Homo sapiens: one gene and its partners. The protein of the gene in region 1 interacts with the protein of each later gene in a pairwise test. Each region holds a gene or a part of one and is shown in the gene's direction. Other genes may lie near its edges. The genes, in order: MCM10, MCM6, ZBTB8A, DPPA2 and ZBTB43.

Evidence for each region.
Region 2: the proteins of MCM10 (region 1) and MCM6 interact in binary tests that used the Homo sapiens proteins (3 or more experiments, as listed by UniProt).
Region 3: the proteins of MCM10 (region 1) and ZBTB8A interact in a two-hybrid assay, tested with the Homo sapiens proteins (one large-scale study listed by BioGRID and IntAct).
Region 4: the proteins of MCM10 (region 1) and DPPA2 interact in a two-hybrid assay, tested with the Homo sapiens proteins (one large-scale study listed by BioGRID and IntAct).
Region 5: the proteins of MCM10 (region 1) and ZBTB43 interact in a two-hybrid assay, tested with the Homo sapiens proteins (one large-scale study listed by BioGRID and IntAct).

Annotation. Positions count from the first base shown.
Region 1 is NC_000010.11:13,195,513-13,200,324, forward strand, and holds part of MCM10 (protein MCM10 homolog), read left to right. Parts: intron 1-2,110; coding exon 2,111-2,255; intron 2,256-3,176; coding exon 3,177-3,295; intron 3,296-4,812. UniProt on the Homo sapiens protein: Acts as a replication initiation factor that brings together the MCM2-7 helicase and the DNA polymerase alpha/primase complex in order to initiate DNA replication. Additionally, plays a role in preventing DNA damage during replication.
Region 2 is NC_000002.12:135,841,501-135,845,971, reverse strand, and holds part of MCM6 (DNA replication licensing factor MCM6), read left to right. Parts: intron 1-1,287; coding exon 1,288-1,427; intron 1,428-4,471. UniProt on the Homo sapiens protein: Acts as a component of the MCM2-7 complex (MCM complex) which is the replicative helicase essential for 'once per cell cycle' DNA replication initiation and elongation in eukaryotic cells.
Region 3 is NC_000001.11:32,545,274-32,550,085, forward strand, and holds part of ZBTB8A (zinc finger and BTB domain-containing protein 8A), read left to right. Parts: intron 1-4,812. UniProt on the Homo sapiens protein: May be involved in transcriptional regulation.
Region 4 is NC_000003.12:109,295,793-109,300,219, reverse strand, and holds part of DPPA2 (developmental pluripotency-associated protein 2), read left to right. Parts: intron 1-4,427. UniProt on the Homo sapiens protein: Binds to target gene promoters, including NKX2-5 and SYCE1, but not GATA4, and may be involved in the maintenance of the active epigenetic status of these genes.
Region 5 is NC_000009.12:126,808,040-126,811,539, forward strand, and holds part of ZBTB43 (zinc finger and BTB domain-containing protein 43), read left to right. Parts: intron 1-57; exon of another isoform or gene 58-153; intron 154-753; 5' UTR 754-876; intron 877-3,500. UniProt on the Homo sapiens protein: May be involved in transcriptional regulation.

The DNA of each region.
Region 1 (4,812 bases):
TAGGAAAACAATGCTTGGAATTGTTGAGGTGAGACTGTAAAATGGTGGTTTAAGGAATCCTTTTTTTACGTTTATTTATTTATTTATTTATTTATTTATTTATTTATTTATTTTTTGAGAAGGAGTCTCACTCTGTCACCCAGACTGGAGTGCAGTGGCGCAATCTCGGCTCACTGCAACCTCCTCCTCCCAGATTCAAGCGATTGTCCTGCTTCAGCCTCCCGAGTACCTGGGACTACAGGCGCCTACCACCACGCCCGGCTAATTTTTAGTAGAGACATGGTTTCACCATGTTGGCCAGGCTGGTCTCGAACTCCTGACCTCAAATGATCTGTCCACCTCGGCCTCCCAAAGTACTAGGATTATAGGTGTGAGCCACCATGCCTGGCGGTTTTATTTTTTATTTGTTGAGACAGACTATCCCCCTGTCACCCATGCTAGAGTGCAGTGGTGCAATTATGGTTCACTGCAGCCTCAACCTCCCAGGATCGATTCATCCACCTGCCTCAGCCTCCCAAGTAGTAGCTGGGACTGCAGGCACATGCCACCACGCCTTGGCTAATTTTTGTATTTTTTGTAGAGATGGGGGCCTCCCTTTGCTGCCCAAGCTGGTCTTGCACTCCTGGACTCAAGCAGTCCCACCTCAGCCTCCCAAAGTGCTGGGACTACAGGCATGAGCCACTGTGCCTAACCAAGAATCCTTTAAAAGAAATCTTACACAAAAGTCCAGTCCCATGACAGGTGAAAGCTGAGTTGCTGCGGCTGAAGTAGGGGTAGGGCACCCAGAGCCCCACCTGCCCACTTCCTGAGTGCCCCAATCGAGCCTCTCTCTTCCCTTAAGTTAGCAGCTGCAGCCAAATGAAGGGCAAAGCTTGCTGTATGCCAAAACCTTACCTATAATAATAACAACAGGAATACCTACAATAACCATGGCACATGTCCATATTACTCAGTACTTGTGATATGTGTGTGCCATGTATTTACTATGTTTATTTATTTATTTATATATATATTTTTTGAGATGGAGTCTCGCTCTGTCACCCAGGCTGGAATACAGTAGTCCGATCTCGCCTCACTGCATCCTCTGCCTCCTGGGTTCAATCAATTCTCTTGCCTCAGCCTCCCGAATTGCTGGGATTACAGGTGCCCACCACCATGCCTGACTAATTTTTGTATTTTTAGAAGAGACAGGGTTTCACCATGTTGGCCAGGCTGGTTTCGAACTCCTGACCTCAAGTGATCCACCTGCCTCAGCCTCCCAAAGTGCTGGGATTACAGGCATGAGCCACTGCGCCCGGCCAGGAATGTATTTGCTATGTAAAGATTCATACTTTGCAGATATTATCTTATTTCATCCATACAACCATGACCTTCAAAGGTAGGTCAATGCTATATCATCATTTCCTTCTCTTTTTTTGTGTGTTTGTTTTGAGACAGGGTCTCACTCTGTCTCCCAGGCTGGTGTACAGTGGTGCAATCACAGCTCACTGAAACCTCCATCTCCCTGGGCTCAGGTGATCCTCCCATCTCAGTCCCCTGAGTAGCTGGGACTACAGGCATGCACTACCATGCCCAGCTAATTTTGTACCATGCCCAGATGAAGTCTCACTGTGTTGCTCAGGCTGGTTTTAAACTCCCGAGCTCAAGAAATCCACCTGCTTCAGCCTCCCAAAGTGCTGGGTTTACAATGAGCTACCATGCCAAGCCCCATTTCCATTTTATACTTGAAAAATTAAGTAATTTTCCTTGGGTTACAAGCTAGTCCGTGGCAGAGCTGGCTGGAACTTTATCTTAATTCTCTCTGATTCTAAAACTTCCAAAATGGTGATGTGGCTCCTTTATGGATCTGGAAGCCTGCAGTCTTGCTGATGTCAAACTTGTTATATTTAAATAAACTAAGATTTTATTCATCAACATATAGACCTGTCTCCCATGCTATTATATTCTAGTAATTGTGTTAATAATACTAAGTAAAATTAAGATATGTTCTGCCAATTTCTGTCAGAGAACAGCCAGAATTCACTGGTTACTAATAAAAAAGGGATCCAGGTCTATAAGTGCCTCTGTCATCTTTTAGATCTTTACCTCCCTCTCATTCCCTTTTTTCTAGTTAGCTGCTATCACCAAATTAAGGGCAAAAGGCCAGGTTCTTACAAAAACAAACCCAAACAGCATTAAGAAGAAACAAAAGGACCCTCAGGACATCCTGGAGGTGAAGGAACGTGTAGAAAAAAACACCATGTTTTCTTCTCAAGGTACTGCAGTTTCACAGTTAACAGTGGGAAAGAGAAACTGTTTCTAAGGGAAATATGTTCTAAACCCAAACCAGCACCCAGATATCAAGCAATTACTTCCATTTCCTCCTATATAGAATACCTAAATAGAATTTCTATGGGTGGAACTGATTTTTTTTTTTTTTTTCATGGAGTCTTGCTCTGTTGCCAGGCTAGAGTGCAGTGGCGCAGTCTTGGCTCGCTACAGCCTCTGCCTCCTGGGTTCAAGCGATCCTCCTGCCTCAGCCTCACGAGTAAGTGGGACTACAAGCGCGCGCCACCACGCCCAGCTAATTTTTTGTATTTTTAGTATAGATGGGGTTTCACCATGTTGGCCAGGATGGCCTCGATCTCTTGACCTCATGATCCGCCCGCCTTGACCTCCCAAAGTGCTGGGATTACAGACGTGAGCTGGAACTGATTTTTTTATAATTACATTAAATTGGAATGAAATTGGGCACAATTTGAATACTTGGGAATAGGATTGCTCATTGGATCTTTGTACATATATATATTAGCATAAAGATTTACTTTGACAGAACTAGAATTCCTTTGTTTTAAATTGCCATATCTTTATTTTTAAAACTCTGAAGTTGGCAATATCATTTTAACATAATTGTCAACATTATTTACACTGTTGTTATCTGTTACTATCGTCAGCTGCCTATTTGAAGGTGAAAAAGAGATTCTATTTAGTGGTAAAATCTGCCACCACCCCACATTCTAGGCTCAGCTTCTTGGCTCACCTCTGAGAGCTTTTCCCTGCTGGGACCAGCGGGGGTAGGTCAAGTTTGAAGGGCTGGTAGGCAGAGGAGGAGGGAGTGGGAGGGAGTAGAGTTGATGAGGCGCACTGGCTTTCTGAAATTTCTTGGTCGCTGCTAATGTTTGTTCCTTGTGCCCTAGCTGAGGATGAATTGGAGCCTGCCAGGAAAAAAAGGAGAGAACAACTTGCCTATCTGGAATCTGAGGAATTTCAGAAAATCCTAAAAGCAAAATCAAAACACACAGGCATCCTGAAAGAGGTAAGAGCCCAAAAGCTCAAGGATGGTGTTGATGTCCGATGTCCTTCAAAGCCAAGGTGCTAGCTGTAGGACCAAGAATGTGTTGTTTGTTTTATTTTGTTTTTCTGAGACAGAGTCTCAGTCTGTGGCCCAGGCTGAAGTGCAGTGGCGCCATCTCGGCTCAATGCAAGCTCCGCCTCCCAGGTTCAAGCGATTCTCCTGCCTCAGCCTCCCAAGTAGCTGGGATTACAGGTGCCTGCCACCACACGAAGCAAATTTTTGTGTTTTTAGTAGGGACAGAGTTTCACCGTGTTGGCCAGGCTGATCTCTAACTCCTGACCTCAAGTGATCCTCCAGCCTTGGCCTCCCAAAGTGCTGGGATTACAGGCGTGAGCCACCATGCCCGTACCCAGCCAAGAATCTGTTTTTTACATAAATCTAAAAGTAGGTATATGTCAGTTTGTTTGAGTTTGCTTTGAAGAACAGGAGAATTTCTAATAAATTTTAGCTTTGTCCTTGTCTCTTTACTGAAGAATATCATTTGATTTAACATGACTTAAATAGATATCAATATTATAAAAATGTTTGCATTTGGTTATGGCTGTGAAATTATGTTTAAATGGCTCTACACTGCTGCTATTTTCTGCCTTGCAATATGCAAAAAGAGTTTTCCCATTCCAGTATTTTTATATTGGCATTTCAAATGCTCTAAATCAGTAGTTAACCCCATCACACCCAAGGACCCTTTTTAATAACAAGTATTTTGTATTGCTTCCTTATCTTGAAATAAAATTCATAGATAATATGAATTACCTATACTAGTCATTTCGAAAAAAATCAATAAATATCCTAATGCAAATAAGAAAAAATGAAAAGATTTGTGATAAAGATACAGATTTCATTATGGATTCATAAATGCAGAGGCAGAACTAGCTTAGGGGAAATAATCAAGTCATCAGAGGCTTGGACTTATCAGTGTAAATGAGCCAGAAATGGAGGCTCACATAGGTTTGTGTCTTGGTAAATAGCATGGACCTATTTCTTTGATAATGTAGGGGTTTTGTCAGGGGTTGGAGGGGTGTTCAGACAGGGTCTCCGTATGTTCCCCAAGCTGGTCTTGAACTCCTGGGCTCAAGCAATTCTCATACCTCAGCCTCCTGAGTAGCTAGGGCTAGATAATGTACTTTTGGTGGGGGTTGGGGAGGTTTTGTTTTTTTTGAGACAAGGTCTTTTTCTGTCCCCCATCAGGGCTCACTGCAGCCTCGAACTCCTGGGCTCAAGTGATGTTCCCACCTCAGCCTCCCAAGTAGCTGGGACTACAGGCGCATCACCATGACTGGCTAATTTTTTTTTTTAGAGACAGGGTTTATCTAGTTTTACTCTTGGAATGGTCAACATAGGTTAAAACCATGCACAAATATTGTAGGGTTGTGTAGAAAGCAGTTAGATTCTAGGGTTTAATCAGGTTCCCCATCCACACAGATGTCTCATAGAGCACACAGAAGCCAGGCAGGATGAGAAGCAATCCTTGGTTGTGT
Region 2 (4,471 bases), on another chromosome or scaffold:
ACATATGAAGCAGCACATACAAATGTTTTTACAAATGCAAAATTACTATTCCCTTACAATGGTTCTGTTTAAAACAGCTGGACCCCTAGGGTATATTTTAACAGTAATTAATTGAGCCTAGAAATCTATACTATCAAAAGGCCATTGCAGACTAGAAATGGAGTAAAATCCTCATGTAGTTATTGGTAAAGTGTGGCGTCTGGACACTAGTACGCTTCCTACCCTTAACTGCTTTACCATGCTATTCAAAGTTTTATCACCCTATAGTTAACTACAAAGCAGAAGGAAAAATGATGAATTCAAGATGTTGAACCTAAACTTCTACTTGATAGTTAAGCATCAGATAATTCTTGATTAAAAGCCCCAAGGATGGCTTGTGCTGGCTTTCTGGAATATTTTGTCATCACAGTATTTGCTCTGCTATGAAAGAAGAGAACAAGAGATTGTAGTTTCTGCCCTTGTTCCCCTGGGAACTTTAGACCAGTAGGAGAGAAGGCAACAAAGTGGCCACTAGGACGCCTCAGCTTTTGTCCTCATTCGCGTCTCACACAAAATGATTTGGGAACTCAAGGTGTTCTTGATTCATGTTATATGTCATTATTCTCTTTCTCCCTCATACAAGTAAGTTTTAAACACAGCAGAAGTTGAGTTTTATGATAGTTATGTTATCCAGGTCCAAACATTTCCTATGTGTTGAGGGTTCTTACCAGGACTTTCTAAAAGTCTGGTAGACCTTGGACTTGTTAAAAGCAGCAGGCAGTTCACTTAGTAAGATGAACCTTGCTAAAATAAACAGGTAATTTTTTATTTTGAGTGAATACTCATGAATTTTACTTCTTAGTAAACTCCAGTTCCATAAAGCCTTCCCCTTTCTACAGAGGAAAAGTTGTTATATTTCAGAATTTTTGCTTGCTGTTGCTTCATTCCTAATTTATGCTTTTAGTTTCTGTTGGCAAGCATTCTCAGAGGTGGTGAAGCATAAGAAGATGAAGAAAAGACCTTCATACTTTGAAATCTTAATAGCTTTAAGAAACATATTTCTTATAATCTATTTTATTAGGTTTCTCTCCTTATGGATAAAATAAGGCATGCTTTAATACAAGTGATATGACTTGTTATTTCAGGCTTATGCTAGAACATTGCGGACCTTACGTCACCAGATGTACTTTCGGACGGCTTGACATTTATCTAATCTGTACATTATCTCGTTGTATATGTGGCAGAGATTTACCCAAGGACTGACAGTACGAGTTGCTAGGATAATTTGAATGTGTTTTTTTGTTGCAGAAGAGGACGAGTCAGCATTAAAGAGGAGCGAGCTTGTTAACTGGTACTTGAAGGAAATCGAATCAGAGATAGACTCTGAAGAAGAACTTATAAATAAAAAAAGAATCATAGAGAAAGTTATTCATCGACTCACACACTATGTAGGTGCAGAAGTGCGCGTGCTCTGGTATCAGGGAGGGAGGGAGTTCATGCCCTGTATCTGCAGGTTCACTAGTGAAATTTTTTTTGACCTTTGTTTGTTTTGAATCATTGGAGTGTAGTCAGAAGTATGAGTTGTAAAATAAGAGAGAATGAACAGCAGGTAAATGACTTATTTCCTCTGCTGAAACAAGCAGAATTTAGGTTAAATCTCAGAAGGTGGGATTGAAGTCTTACTAGTTAGGTGTTTTAAGCTTCTGTTTCCCATCCTCATATTTGCCCTTGGTCGTACTGCTGTCACCTACTTTCTATGTTTCATTTTCCTCACATTCTTAGTTCCCACCTTACCCAACCCAATAGTCAATCTTCCATCTTACTTGCTTGGCGAAACCCCAAACTTGGTTAAATATAACTTTTTTTTTTTTTTGTATCCTTATCTAAGCAGCTGAAAGTATCTGGAGAAAAGCATATAATTATGAGCCCAGTCTTATTTAAATCGATGACCAGAAATCTCAAGTGGACAGTTCTTACTGTCTCATCAACCTCATGACAGCACTGCCCAGTGCAATTCCTTTTCCCGGGTCAGTTCTTTGCCTCACTCTCTCACAGGCCCATCACATACCTTCTCTCCACTCCTGTCAGCTGGCCATTCTCAGTACTCAGCCTGTCCACAGCTTTGTCACAGTTGATCACTCCTACAAATAGTGTCTTCCTCACTTGGTTCTGAGTCACTGTATCCTCCTGGGGCTTCTTTCTCACTGGTTATTCCCTCTTAGTCTCTTTCCCTGAATGGTTTTGTTTTTTTTTTTTTTTTTTGAGACAGAGTTTCGCTCTTGTTGCCCATGCTGGAGTGCAGTGGCATAGCTCACTGCAGCTTCCACCTCCTGGGTTCAAGCGATTCTCCTGTCTCAGCCTCCCAAGTAGGATTACAGGCGCCGGCCACCACGCCCGGCTAATTTTTTAATTTTTTTTTTTTAGTAGAGATGGGGTTTTGCCATGTTGGCCAGGCTGATCTAGAACTCCTAACCTCAGGCGATACGCTCACTTTGGCCTCCCAAACTGCTGGGATTACAGGCGTGAGCCACCGTGCCTGGCCTGAATCTTTCTCTTCTTACTTTACTCTCAGATAGTTTACATTCATTACCTAAGTGATCTCATTTGGTTTTATGAATTTATCCATCTACTGATGACTTCCACATTTATGTCACCAGCTCTCACCACTCCTGTAAACTCCAGATGTATAGAGCTGGTTGCCTACTGATGAGCGTTTAACAGGCATCTCGTGCTTAATGTGTTCAAAAACAGAGTTGTTCTTCCCTGTTTGCAGTTGAGTTGTTCTTACTCAATTGCTATAGGCCAAATGCCTTGGAATTGTCTTTGACTCCTTGATTCCACTCTCCCCTCACAGCTCCTCTTCAGCAGCAAATCCTCTGACCCCCAGCTTCAGTGTGTGTATATTTTCTTTTCTCTTTTTACCGCCTTCACCAGCCCACCCAAGCCACCAGGCATGGACTGTTGCAGAAGCCTCATAAAATTGTCCTTTTTTTGTATTGGCTTCTTGCTCAGCAGCCAGATAAGTCTTTTTAAAATATAAATCAGATTATTTTACTACCCTCCCTTCCAGTGCTTCTCTCACATTAGAAGGAAATTCAGCCTCCTTGTCATGGCCTGCAGAACTATTATACAGTGTAACCCCTGTCCCCTCATTCACCTAATTTCACAGCAGTCTTCCCCATACCCATTTCACCCCAGTGACACTGGCCTTGATCCCTAGGCACACCAAATATGAGGGCCTTTGCACTCACCCTTTGTCCATTTCCCTAGATATCCTCCTCCTCTCCAATGTCTGCTCAAATGTTACCTCTTCAAAGAAACCTTTCTTGCTAGCCTGCCAAAATAGTAGCCTTCTGCTCTTGCTGTCACCCTGCCTTGTATTTCTTCGTAATGTTTAACATGGCCCAGCAGTATATTCTTTATTTAAGTGGTTAGTTTGTCTCTCTTATGGAATATAAGCTCTGTGAGGGTAGAGACTTTGCCCCGGAGCTACAGTGGTACCTGGCACATAGCAGGATCAAATATATGTTGAATGGTTAAATTTTCCTATTATGTGGCAGAGATTTAACTGTCGTGCCAATTCACAGGGCTCACTATATAAATATTACAGAGGTCATGTATTGGGGTTGTGTCTTCTCAAAAACCGTTTTCCTGTGAAGGTAGATCAGTCTGTGATTATTGAGGGGTAGGGAGGTGTAAGAACAGCTACTCAGATCAGGGTCCAGAGTTGCTTTTCTAGTGGTGGGACATGTCTGTGTGCTCCTTGGGATCAGTGTAAAGTAAAACGACCCAGGCAAGGAATCTGCTTCAGGACTTTGGAACACACTGTGAAGCTAACTGATCTAAACTTGAATTACCTATTTATTTATTTATTTATTTATTTATCTTTTGAGAGAGTCTTGCTCTGTTGCCCAGACTGGAGTGCAGTAGCATGATCTCAGCTCGCCGCAACTTCCGCCTTCTGGGTTTAAATGATTCTCTTATCTCAGCCTCCAGAGTAGCTGGGATTACAGGTGCCCGCCACCACTCCCAGCTAATTTTTGTATTTTTAGTAGAGATGGTGTTTCACCATGTTGGCCAGGCTGGTCTCAAACTCCTGACCTCAGGTGATCCACCCACCTCAGCCTCCCAAAGTGCTGGGATTACAGGCATGAGCTACTGCGCTCAGCCTGGATTACCTTTTAAAATTTGGCTTACCACCTGAACTAATTTGCTACAGAAAACTAGAGAGCTTATACTGTGCTGATGAGATATGATGCTTCCTATGAAGGTATGTTAACACATAGAGTGAGTGCTTGAAAGTGTCCAATCTAACTTCAGGGGTAGATTTGAAAGGGCAATTTTTTAAAAAGTGTCCAGTCCCCCTTAGTGGCTTCAGTGTTTATACTGTGGAGCCTTGCCAGACTTCTTAGGATCAAATCACAGTTTCCTGAGTTCCTTTCTATGGGCTTGGCTAGGAGCTCTTCTCATTTGTGGACAGTTTTGACTAACC
Region 3 (4,812 bases), on another chromosome or scaffold:
TATCCTAGTGGGTGTGAGGTAGTATCTCATTGTGATTTTGATTTGCATTTCTCTAATGATTAATGATGCTAAACATCTCTTCATGTGCTTATTTCTATTTGTCTTATTTAATCTTATTTATTTTAGCGATTATCTTATTTAATCCTCTTAACAGACTTCCTTAGAGCCTCTAAACAGTCAATAACCTCATTTTACAAAAAGGAAACGAATGCTTAGAGTTAAGTAACTTGACAAAGTCACACAGCTAATGATTGGTAGACCTATAATCCTGTGTTTCTTCTTTTTAAAATCCTTCAGAAGTGCCTCAGAACCCCCAAAACTGGAGGGGCTTCCAAGATCTAGCTCTTACATACTTTTCTAGTTTCATCTTCTGCCATCCTTCTGTAGGCCCACAGTCTCTAGCTATAGCAAACTTCTTACCATCCCCTAGGAGGCCATGCTGTTTAATACGCTGTTTTTGCCTTCCCATTTGGTGCTCTCTCTGGCTAGAACGCCTTTTGCCCTCTTTCTCATGTATAAACTTCTTTTCATCCTTCAAGACCCAACCTAAACGTTGAGCCTTTTGGAAATGTTTCTCAATACTACCAGGTACAATCATTTGCTTTCTTTGTTTTACAGTTCCCTTCTACTATGAGTATTTTCTTCATTGTATTGTCACTTTGTCTAGAAGTCTCTTCTCTTCCTGTCTCTTCTCTGACTCTCTCTCTCTCCTACTAGACAGTGAGCTGCTTGAAAGTGAGCACTGACCTTTGACATTTCATCACCTCTATATTCTCAGGACCAGGTATAGTCTGGTATAGAGTAGTTGCTCAATAAATATGTCTTGAATAAAATGCGTTTCACCTGCCAATTTGAGTATCTGCCCTTCTCATAAAAATAGAGTAAAAGGGCCACATACAGTGGCTCACACGTGTAATCCCAGCACTTTGGGAGGCCAAGGCGGGCAGATCACTTGAGGCCAGGAGTTTGAGACCAGCCTGGCCAACATGGCGAAACCCTGTCTCTGTTAAAAATATAATAATTAGCCAGGTGTGGTGGTGCGTGCCTGTAATCCCAGCTACTCAGGAGGCTGAGGCATGAGAATCACTTGAACCCAGGAGTGGCAGGTTGCAGTGAGCCAAGATCATGCCACTGCACTCCAGCCTGGGTAACAGAGTGAGACTCTGTCTCAAAAAAAAAAATAAATAAATAAATAAAAGATTTTTCTGTTAAAATATAGAAAGAGCCAGACATGGTGGTACACTGTTATAGTCCCACCTATGTGGGAGACTGAAGCAGGATCACTTGAGCCCCGGAGGCCAAGGCTGCAGTGAGCCAAGATCGTACCACTGCACTCCAGGCTGGTGGGACCTTGTCTCAAGAATTTAAAAAAGGAAAATATACTTCTGTGGAGTTCAGAACAATGTAAAATTAATGATTGTATCAAAAGATGAAGTTGTTTTCTTTCGGCTGTTTTTCTGACCCTTCAGAAAACCTCCATTGCTTTGAATCCTGTGGCTCTCAGCAGCATGTGAAACACGGAGGGCATAGCGGATGCCTTATATCACCTTCAGTTCCCTCTGTCTCCCTGGCGCTGTTGGACTAGGTCCAACATAAAATTCTTACAGTTCCAGAATATCTGGGGGAAGTTTTTTGTTTTTGTTTTTGAGACAGGGTCTTGCCCTGTTGCCCAGGCTGGAGTGCAGTGGCACAATCACAGCTCACTGCAGCCTCAGCCTCTCAGGCTCAAGTGATCCTCCCACCTCAGCCTACTGAGTAGCTGGGACCACAGGCATATACTACCACACACCTGGCTAATTTTTTAATTATTTGTAGAGATGAGGTCTCGCCATGTTGCCCAGGCTGGTCTCGAACTCCTGGGCTCAAGTGATCCTCCTGCCTGGGCCTTCCAAAGTGCTAGGATTATAGATATGAGCTACCATGCCCGGCTGGGGGAAGTTTTATTCCAAAATCTGCAATGTATTTTTCATCACCAGAAGATACCTCAGCAAACCAAACTAAGCCATAATTTTATCCATGACTTTTTAAATATATACATTAGAGTAGTATTCTAAGTATAAACAAATTTTCTTTTCTTTCTTTTTTTTTTTTTTTAGTAGAGATGGAGTCTTGCCCTGTTGCCCAGGCTAGAGTGCAGTGGCATGAGCATTGCTCACTGCAGCCTCGAACTCCTGGGCTCAAGGGATCTTCCCTCCTGCCTTAGCCTCCTGAGTAGCTGGGACTACAGGTTCGAGCCACTGTACTCAGCAACATTAAAACATAAACTTTTAGGTTGCAAATCTTATTTTAGGTTATAGATCTCATTCTCAGGCCACTGCACTCCAGCCTGAGTGACAGAGCAAGTCTGTATCTCAAAAAAAAAAAAAAAAAGAAAGAAAAAAAGGCAAAAATGGTTTCTCAAGAATAATTTGGCACACACTTGTATTCAGAAGGCTGAGGTGGGAGGATCACCTGAGCCCGGGGAGGTCAAGGCTGCAGTGAGCTGTGATCTCACCACTGCACTCCAGCCTGAGCAACAGAGAAAGATTCTGTCTAAAACAAAAAACAAACAAAGCAAAAAAAAAAAAAAAAAAAAAAAGACCAGGCGCAGTGGCTCACACTTGTAATCCCAGCACTTTGGGAGGCCGAGGCAGGTGGATCATGAGGTCAGGAGTTCGAGACCAGCCTGGTCAAAACAGTGAAACCCCCATCTCTACTAAAAATGCAAGAATTAGCTGGGCATGGTGGCCGGCACCTGTAATCCCAGCTACTTAGGAGGCTGAGACAGTAGAATCACTTGAACCCGGGAGGTAGAGGTTGCAGTGAGCCGAGATTGCACCACTGCACTCCAGCTTGGGCGACAGAGCTAGACTCCGTCTCAAATTAAAAAAAAAAAAAAAAAAAAAAAAAGAATAATCCTTCCTTAAGGTGAGGTCTGCAATTGACTAGTTGGAGTCGAGGGTTGCTATTCCCAGGTACACATGTAGTTTTGAAATGATCGCTCTCACTCTCTCTAGGTACATGAATATGATGAAACCAGTCAAAAAACATTTTTTTTTTCTGTATCCACATTTTTTGTTTTTGTTTTTGTTTTTGTTTTGAGACAGAGTCTCACTCAGCCGCCCAGGCTGGAGTGGAGTGGTGCAATCTCGGCTCACTGCAACCACCGTCTCCAGGGTTCAAGCGATTCTCCCGTCTCAGCCTCCTAAGTAGCTGGGATTACAGGCACCCGCCATCATGCCCGGCTAATTTTTGTATTTTAGTAGAGATGGGGTTTTGCCATGTTGGCCAGGCTGGTCTTGAACTCCTGACCTCAGGTGATAAACCCGCCTCAGCTTCCCAAAGTGCTAGGATTACAGGCGTGAGCCTCCTTTCTGTATCCCCATTTGTATAAGACAAGAAAATGTGTGGCAATAAAACTCTAAAATGTTTACATTTTGTACTCATTGAAAGCAGTGTTTTTAAATGTTTAGATAATTAATAATAATAATAATAGCTGACATTTATCAAGGGCTTGTTATAAGCCAGGCACTGTTATAAGCACGTTTCTTGGATTAGCTTCTAATATTCTCCATCTCGCAGCTCTGTAAGCTATAGGTATTATTATTGTCCCTGTATTAGTCCATGCTCTCATTGATAAAAAGAAATACCTGGCCGGGGCCAGGCACCGTGGCTCATGCCTGTAATCCCAGCACTTTGGGAGGCTGAGGCAGGCCGATCATGAGGTCAGGAGTTTGAGACCAGCCTAGCCAATATGGTGAAACTTCATCTCTACTGAAAATACAAAAATTAGCCGGGTATGGTGGCCCGCACCTGTAGTCCTAGCTACTCCAGAGGCAGAGACAGAATCGCTTGAACCCGGGAGGCAGAGGTTGCCATGAGCCGAGATCACGTCACTGCACTGCAACCTGGAGGGCAGAGTCAGACTCTGTCTCAAAACAAAACAAAACAAAACACCTCGCTGGGTGCTGTGGCTCATGCCTGTAATCCCAGCACTTTGGGAGGCCGAGGCGGGCGGATCACCTGAGGTCAGTAGTTCGAGACCAGCCTGGTCAACATGGTGAAACCCTGTCTCTACTAAAAATATAAAAATTAGCCACGCATGGTGGGATGTTCCTGTAATCCCGGCTACTTGGGGGGCTGAGGCAGGAGAATCGCTTGAACCCAAGAGGTAGAGGTTGCGGTGAGCCAAGATCACACCGTTGCACTCCAGCCTGGGCAACGAGTAAAACTCCGTCTCAAAAAAAAAAAAAAAGACTGCCCAACAGGCCCCCCAGGGAGGGAATCAGGAGGCTGCCAATGACATTGCTAGTGTAATTTAAGGGTCGACTAACTGCTATAGGCCATGCGCAGTGTAATCCAGCACTTTGAGAGGCCAAAGTGGGAGGATCCCCTTGAGCCTAGGAGTTCGAGTTTACGGTGAGCTGGGAGTGCACCACTGCACTTCAGCACTTCATCCTGGATGACAGAGTGAGACCCTGCCTCTGAAAATAAATAAAAGGAAACAACCCTGCTACCCCTGAACTTCCCCTGAACTCCTACCAAATAGTGACTCCTGTCTTCACCATGTTTGTCTTTTGACAATCATGAAGCTTTTGACACTGGAATGCTGCTATGAGAAAAAAATACAATGTTTCCATAAATGTGCTTGCCAGCATTAACAGCCAAAACAGAAGAAAGATGGTTCCCACCTCATTTCTGCCTTCCGGATCTCACAGAACATCTCATTGATAGGCCACATTTCACATGGGGAAACTGAATTGTAAAGGAGTCTGGGAAATGTACTTTTTAGTTTCCAGAAGGAAGTTAGGAAAGGATGTTGATGCCGGTCGT
Region 4 (4,427 bases), on another chromosome or scaffold:
CAGGAAGTACAAATGGTGGCGCGTCTGTAGATAACTTGCATCCCAATCATTGCTGTGCTGTGTCCTGACCATCTTTGGTATCTCCTGATGCCTTGAGTACTGACTTACTAAATAGTTAGCTGCACAGAATACAATTTGGTTTTGTTTTAATTAATGGACTCTTTTTTGAAAATGAAAACTTGAGTGAAAAGTATAGGGTTCCCATGTATTCCCATGTACACGGTGCTTCACACCCCCTCCATTTTCCTCTGTTAGTAACTTGCATTAGTGTGCTACATTTTTTACAATTGATGAGGCAGGGCTGGGCATGGTGGTAGTCACCTGTAGTCCCAGCTACCGGGAAGGCTAAGTCAGGAGGATCACTTGCACCCAGGAGGAGTTCAAGGTTGTAGTTCTCTGTGATCACACCTGTGAATTGCCACTGCACTCCAGCCTGGGCAACATAGTCTCTAAAAAAAAAAAAAAACTAATGAGTCAATATTGATACATTATTCTTTTTTCTTTTTCTTTTTCTTTTTCTTTTTTTTTTTTTTGAGACGGGGTCTCATTCTTGTCGCCCAGGCTGGAGTACAATGATGAGATCTCAGCTCACTGCAACCCCTGCCTCCCAGGTTCAAGCAATTCGCCTGCCTCCGCCTCCCAAGTAGCTGGGATTACAGGTGCACACCACCACGCCCAGCTAAATTTTTATTTTATTTTTTTTGAGACAGAGTCTCACTCTGTTGCCCAGGCTGGAGTGCAGTGGCGTGATCTCAGCTCACTGCAACCTCCGCCTCCCACCTCCCGGGTTCAAGCAACTCTCCTGCTTCAGCCTCCCGAGTAGCTGGGATTACAGGCATGTGCCACCACACCCGGCTAATTTTTTTGTATTAGTAGAAACGGGGTTTTGCCATATTGGCCAGGCTTGTCTCGAACTCCTAATCTTGGGATCCACCCGCTTCGGTTTCCCAAAGTGCTGGGATTACAGGCGGGAGCCACCGCACCCAGCCCCCAGTCAATTTTTTTTTTTTTTTTTGGTATGTTTAGTAGAGTCGGGGTTTCACCATTTTGGCCAGGCTGATCTGGAACTCCTGACCTCAGGTGATCCACCTGCCTCAGCCTCCCAGTGCTAGGATTACAGGCGTGAGCCACCGTGCCCGGCCTCTTTTTCTTTCTTAAAAATTTGTTTATTTTTGAGACAGGGTCTGGCTCTGTCACCCAGGCTGGAGTGCAGTGGCACGATCTCAGCTCACTGCAACCTCTGCCTTCCGTGTTCAAGCCATCCTCTCACCTCAGCCTCCCAAGTAGCTGGGACTACAGACACACACCATAATGCCCAGCTAATTTTTTTTAATTTTTGGTAGAGGACGGGTTTCACCGTGTTGCTCAGGTGAACAGCCTGGTTCAAGACCATTGAACTCCTGAGCTCAAGCAATCCACTCGCTTAATCTTCCAAAGTGCAGGGATTACAGGCGTGAGCCACTGTGCCTGGCTATTTTATTATTATTATTATTATTATTATTTTTAGACAGAATCATACTTTATCACCAGGCTGGAGTGCAGTGACGCCGATCTCAGCTCACTGGAACCTCCGCCTCCCAGGTTCAAGCGATTCTCCTGCCTCAGCCTTCCGAGTAGCTGGGATTACAGGCACCCGCCACTATGCCCAGCTAATTTTTTGTATTTTTTTAGTAGAGATGGGGTTTCACCATGTTGGCCAGGCTGGTCTTGAGCTCCTGACCTCGTGATTCACCCGCCTTGGGCTCCCAAAGGGCTGGGATTACAGGCGTGAGCCACCGTGCCCGGCTATTTTATTATTTTTTTATAGAGATGGGGTCTCACCATGTTTCTCAGGCTAGTCAAACTTCTGGGCTCCAGCAGTCCTCCCACCTCAGGCTCCCTGAGTTCAGGGATTACAGGTGTGAGCCTCTACACCGAGCAGATACCTTATTATTAACTAAACTCTATAGTTCATATTAGGTTTTATTATTCGTGTTGTACATTCTATGGTTTTGACAAATGTAAAATGACATTTATCCAACATAGTGTCATACAGAATAGTTTCACTACCTTAGAAATCCCTTGTGTTGCACCAATTCATCCCTCCCCGCAAGCCCATACACTGGAAACCATAGATCTTTTTGCTCAGTCACCCAGGCTGGAGTGCAATGGTGCAGTCATAGCTCATTGCAGCCTTGAACTCCTAGGCTCAAGGGATTCTCCTGGCCCAGCCTTCTGAGACACTGGGACTACAGGTGTGTGCCACCGTACCCAGCTAGTTTTATTTTTTAATTTTTAGTAGAGATGGGTCTCACTGTGTTGGCGAGATTGGTCTCAAACTTCTGGCCTCAAGCTGTCCTTCTGCCTTAGCCTCCCAAAGTGCTGGGATTACAGGCATAAGCCAGTGTGCCTGGCCTATCATAGCTTTGCCATTTCCAGAATGTTGTGTATACTTAGAATTATACAGTGTGTAGCCTTTTCATATTGGCTTTCAGATAGCAATATGTAGTGAAGATTCCTCCATGTGTTGTCATGGCCTGATAGCTCATTTCTGCCAAACTGTCTTTAAAAGTGGCTGTAGCATTTTGCATTCCTACCAGCAATGAATGAGAGTTCTTGTTGCACCATATCTTTCTTAGTATTTCGTATTGTTTGGATTTTAGCCATTCTAATAGGCGTGCCACAGTATTTCAGTGCTTTTTTTTTTTTTGAGACAGACTCTCTCAGAGAGTGCAGTCACCCAGGCTGGAGTGCAGTGGCGTGATCTCAGTTCACTGCAACCTTTGCCTCCTGGGTTCAAGTGATTATCCTGCCTCTGCCTCCCAAGTAGCTGGGACCACAGGCACACGCTACCATGACTGGTTAATTTTTGTATTTTCAGTAGAGATGGGGTCTCGCCATGTTGGCCAGACTGATCTAAAACTCCTGACCTCAGGTGATCTGCCCACCTTGGCCTCTGAAAGTGCTGGGATTACAGGCATGAGCCACTGTGCCCAGCCAGTATCACATTTTTTTAAATTTGGAATTCCTTAATGATATGAAGTAGAGCATCTTTTTATATGTTTATTTCTCATCTGTGTATCTTCTTTGGTGTGGTGTCTTTTCAGGTCTTCTGCACAATTTTTATTTTTTAACTTACTATTTATTTTTTATTGAGAGAATGTCTTGCTCTTTCACCCAGGCTGGAGTGCAGTGGTGTGATCATGGCGCACTGCAGCCTTGACCTTCTGGGCTCAAGCAAGATTCTCCCACCTCAGTATCCTACTGGGACTACAGGTGCACATTACCATGCCTGGCTAATTTTTCTATTTTTTTTTGTAGAGATGGGGTTTTGCCATGTTGCCCAGGCTGGTCTCGAACTCCTGGCTCAAGTGATCCATCAGCCTCAGCCTCTCAAAGTGCTAGGATTTTGCCTGGCCTTTTTGCACATTTTTTAATTGGGTTGTTTTATTATTGAGTTTTAAGAGGTCTTTGTATATTTTGAATAACAGTCCTCTATCAGATATATCTTTTGCAGATAATTTTCTCATTTCTTTCCTTCCTTTTTTTTTTATTATTTTTTTTGAGACAGAGTTTTTGCTCTTGTTTTCCCAGCTGGAGCGCAATGGCGCGATCTTGGCTCTCTGCAACCTCCACCTCCTGGGTTCAAACAATTCTCCTGTCTCAGCCTCCCAAGCAGCTGGGATTACAGGCATGTGCCACGACACCCAGCTAATTTTTGTATTTTTAGTAGAGACAGTGTTTCTCCATGTTGGTCAGGCTGGTCTCAAACTTCTGACCTCAGGTGATCCATCTGCCTTAGCCTCCCAAAGTTTTGGGATTACAGGCGTGAGCCACCACGCCCAGCTTTGTTTCCTTCTTTTTAAATATCACTTTACTCTCTTCTTGTTTGTAAGGCTTACGGAGAGAAGTCCAATGTAATTCTTACCTTTGTTCCTTTACAGTTAAGGTGTTTTTTTCTCTTACTTTTACGATTTTCTATTTGTCTTTGTTTTTCTGCAGTTTGAGTATGATATGCCTAGGTGTTGAATTTTTGGTGTTTATCCTACTTCCTATCTCTGAGCTTCCTGGATCTCTGGTTTTGTATGTCATTAATTTTGGGATATTTTCAGTCATTGCTTCACAACTTTCTATTCCTTTCTCTCTTCTGGTATTTTCATTACATGTTGAAACCTTTTTGTAATTGCCTCGCAATTCTTGGATATTCAGTTCTTTTTAAAAAGATTTTTCATTTTGCTTTTCAGTTTTGGAGGTTTCTATTGACATTTGTTTAAGCCCTCTGATTCTTTTGTTGGCAGTCCAGCTATAGATGAGTCCATGAAGGCAGTTTTCATTTCTGTTAGTATTTTCTTCTAATTTCTATCATTTTATTTTGATTCTTGGAATTTCCATCTTCCCACTTGCATTACTCATCTGTTTTGTATCTTGTCCACTTTTTCTGTTAGAGC
Region 5 (3,500 bases), on another chromosome or scaffold:
ATGTTGTTAATTTCTTGAAATGAGTACTGTTTCTGCCTTCTGCTTTCTTGATTTCAGCTTCTTATCCTGAATTCTAATGCACGTGAGGGTACAGTTAAAAACATTTCCTTGGCTTTATTGAAATTCAATGGAAGGATGATCGATAAATGGGGGGTTAGTTTCTAGAACGTTACCTTCTCTTTTGAATCTCAGAGAGTTTGCTGTAATAGAATGTTTGTCCTAGAAGTTTTTAAGTAAAACATTCAGCCGTGGCTTAAAATTGAAGGGAATCATGAATCAAACTTCATAAAGCAGGTGGCTTGTTTTTTTAAAAAACATCTTAAAATAGTTTTTACTAAGTGATTTGGCCAAAGTGTTCTAATTAGGAAAAAAATGGAAGAATACTGATTGACAATGGTCAGGAGACCAATAGCACTGTTCCAAAGGATATATTAATTCTGCAAAATTACATAGTCATTGACCATGTTTTCTAGTTTTAATGAATATGCCACAGTAATGGATGAGAGGTATATGGGAGTTATGCACTATCTTTTCAGTTTTTTTGAAAATTTAAAATTATTACAAAATAAGTTTGTTTTTTTAAAAAATACAAAAGCAGGAGCTATGAAGTTGCAGAATGGAATTTAATATAACCAAAAATGCCAGTCTTGATTACTTTTCTTTCTGCCGCTAATGTACATCTCTAGTGTTTATTAGCAAATACACGTGTACATAGCATCTCTTTTACATTTTCACTGTTACTCTTCCTTCCAGAAGTCAATGTGATTTTAATTTGAAGCAAAACTGAAATGGGTTCTTCTTCCTCATTCTATTCATGTTGCTTTTTGATGGCCATGGCATAAGGAACTCTATCCCAGGAATACAGCTTTGCATTAGGTAAGCTATCAACTTGATCACGATACCATTTTTAAAGTTACTTACTGTAATCATTTCTCTTTTAGCAAAAATAATAATGTATTTTGTTAAGATTTTTAATTCCTCTAGACCAGAAGATTCTTTCTTCTCTTCTGAAGAGATGTTACACCTTCTAAGGCCCATCAATGCCATACTTTGCACTGATAGAACATTTAATGTCAGATAAATTTTTCTGCCAAGTGAATTTTTTTTCTTAACTTAGAAAAATGTTAGATTTGGAGTTATACTGCTGTTTGAATGCTGACATGCCATTTCTGAGACGTGTAACCACTGGCAGGTCTTTTAATTTGAGCTTCAGTTTACTCATATTTCAAAAGGATGCAATGATACGGGAGTGTTGCACAACGCAGGTTTACATAGTGTGCTTTGTGAACTCTAAAGCATTTCACTAATGTAAAGAGTAGGCATAGGGTATTGGTGTTTTTGTACATTTGTGCCAGGCTTTAAATTTACTGAAGCAACATTTACTATGTTTAAATATGCTTTCTATAGTAAGCATGCAAGTTACCATATGCTCTGATTAAAGAAACCTCTGAAGGACTTCACAATAAGTAGCTGGTGGGTCTGCTTCCCTATTATATTGCTGTCATCTGTGTTTTTAGGATGTTTAATAGGTGTTTAAATCACGTATAAAATTTGACTTGGAGTTCCTCAGCCGAATAATAAATAGTGGCTGTTATTAAACTCATCAAAGTTGGAAGGAATCTTGAAGGTCATCTAGTTCAGGATTTCTTCAGTATGTTGCCCTTCATCTGCGTTAAAAAAAGCCAAATAGCTTTTAAGAAGCATAGTGGAACAGGCTGGCATCGGTGTGTTTGTTTTAGAACTGTTGCTATTGGATTAAAAAAATAAAATACATGTGCAAAGTGGCATAAAACTGCTGGTATCTTTTTTTTTTTGAGACAGAGTCTCGCTTTGTCGCCCAGGCTAGAGTGCAGTGGCAGGATCTCAGCTCACTGCAAGCTCCACCTCCCAGGCTCAAGCAGTTCTCTGCCTCAGCCTTCAGAGTAGCTGGGATTACAGGTGCCGGCCACCACACCCGGCTAATTTTTTTGTATTTTTAGTAGAGATGGGGTTTCACCATCTTGGCCAGACTGGTCTTGAACTCCTGACCTTGTGATCCACGGGCCTCAGCCTCCCAAAGTGCTGGGATTACAGACGTGAGCCACCGCGCCCGGCCCACTAACTGCTGGTATCTTATTAAGGTTTTTGTTTGTTTGTTCATTTGTTTGTTTATTTGTTTGTTTGTTTGTTTTTGAGATGGAGTCTCGCTCTTGTTGCCCAGGCTGGAGTGCAGTGGCAGAATCTCCGCTCACTGCAACCTCTGCCTCCCAGGTTCAAGAGATTTTCCTTCCTCAGCCTCCTGAGTAGCTGGGATTACAGGCATCTGTCAGCATGCCCAGCTAATTTTGTATTTTTAGTAGAGACAGGGTTTCGCCTTCTTGGCCAGGCCAGTCTCAAACTCCTGACCACAGGTGATCCACCGTCTCGTGCTCCCAAAGTGCTGGGATTACAGGCATGAGCCACTGTGCCCAGCCGTCTTTTTTTTTTTTTTTTTTTTTTTTGAGATGGGGTCTCGCTCTGTCACACAGGCTGGAGCGCGTGGCGAGATCTTGGCTCACTGCGACCTCTGCCTCCCGGGTTCAAGTGATTCTCCTGCCTCAGCCTCCCAGGTAGCTGGGACTACAGGCATGGGCCACCATGCACAGCTAATTTTTTTTTGTACTTTTAGTAGAGAAGGGGTTTCACCATGTTGGCCAGGATGGTCTCCATCTTTTGACCTGGTGATCCGCCCGCCTCGGCCTCCCAAAGTACTGGGATTACAGGAGTGAGCCACCATGCCTGGCTTGGGCCATCTTAAGTCTAAGGATGGTCAGCGTGCGAAAGTTTGTGAATGCATTGTATATAATAAAATTATATAGATTATTTGTGAAAATGATATTCACGTTTACTTTCCATACTCTGAAACTATAGTGATATTCACAGCCAGGCACGATGGCTCATGCCTGTAATCCCAGCACTTTGGGAGGCCAAGGTGGGCAGATCACATGAGGGTCAGGAGTTCGAGACCAACCTGGCCAACATGGTGAAACCCCATCTCTACTAAAAACACAAAAATTAGCTGGGCGTGGTGTCACGCACCTGTGGTCTCAGCTACTCAGGAGGCTGAGGCAGGAGAATCGCTTGAACCTGGGAGGCGGAGGTTACAGTGAGCTGAAGTGGCACCACTGCCCTCCAGCCTGGGCGACAGAGACTCCATCTCAAAAAAAAAAAAAAAAAGAAGAAAAAATTATATTCACCTTTTCTTTCCACCTCTTAAGCTATAGTGGGCCTGAACAAGTACTTTGGATTTAAATCTCAATTTTACTGCTTACCAGTTATATGACCTTAAGTTGCTTAGCTTTTTTGTCTATCTCCAATTCTGTACAATGGAAGTAAAAAATACCTATTGAGTGGGTTGCTGTGAAGATTAAGTGAGACAGAGCATATAAAGTGCTTTGCATAGACTTTGTACAATGTCTGTATTAAGCAGTTTATATATTTGTATATGTATGTCATAAATAGTAGTTGCTGTTATTTCCTAT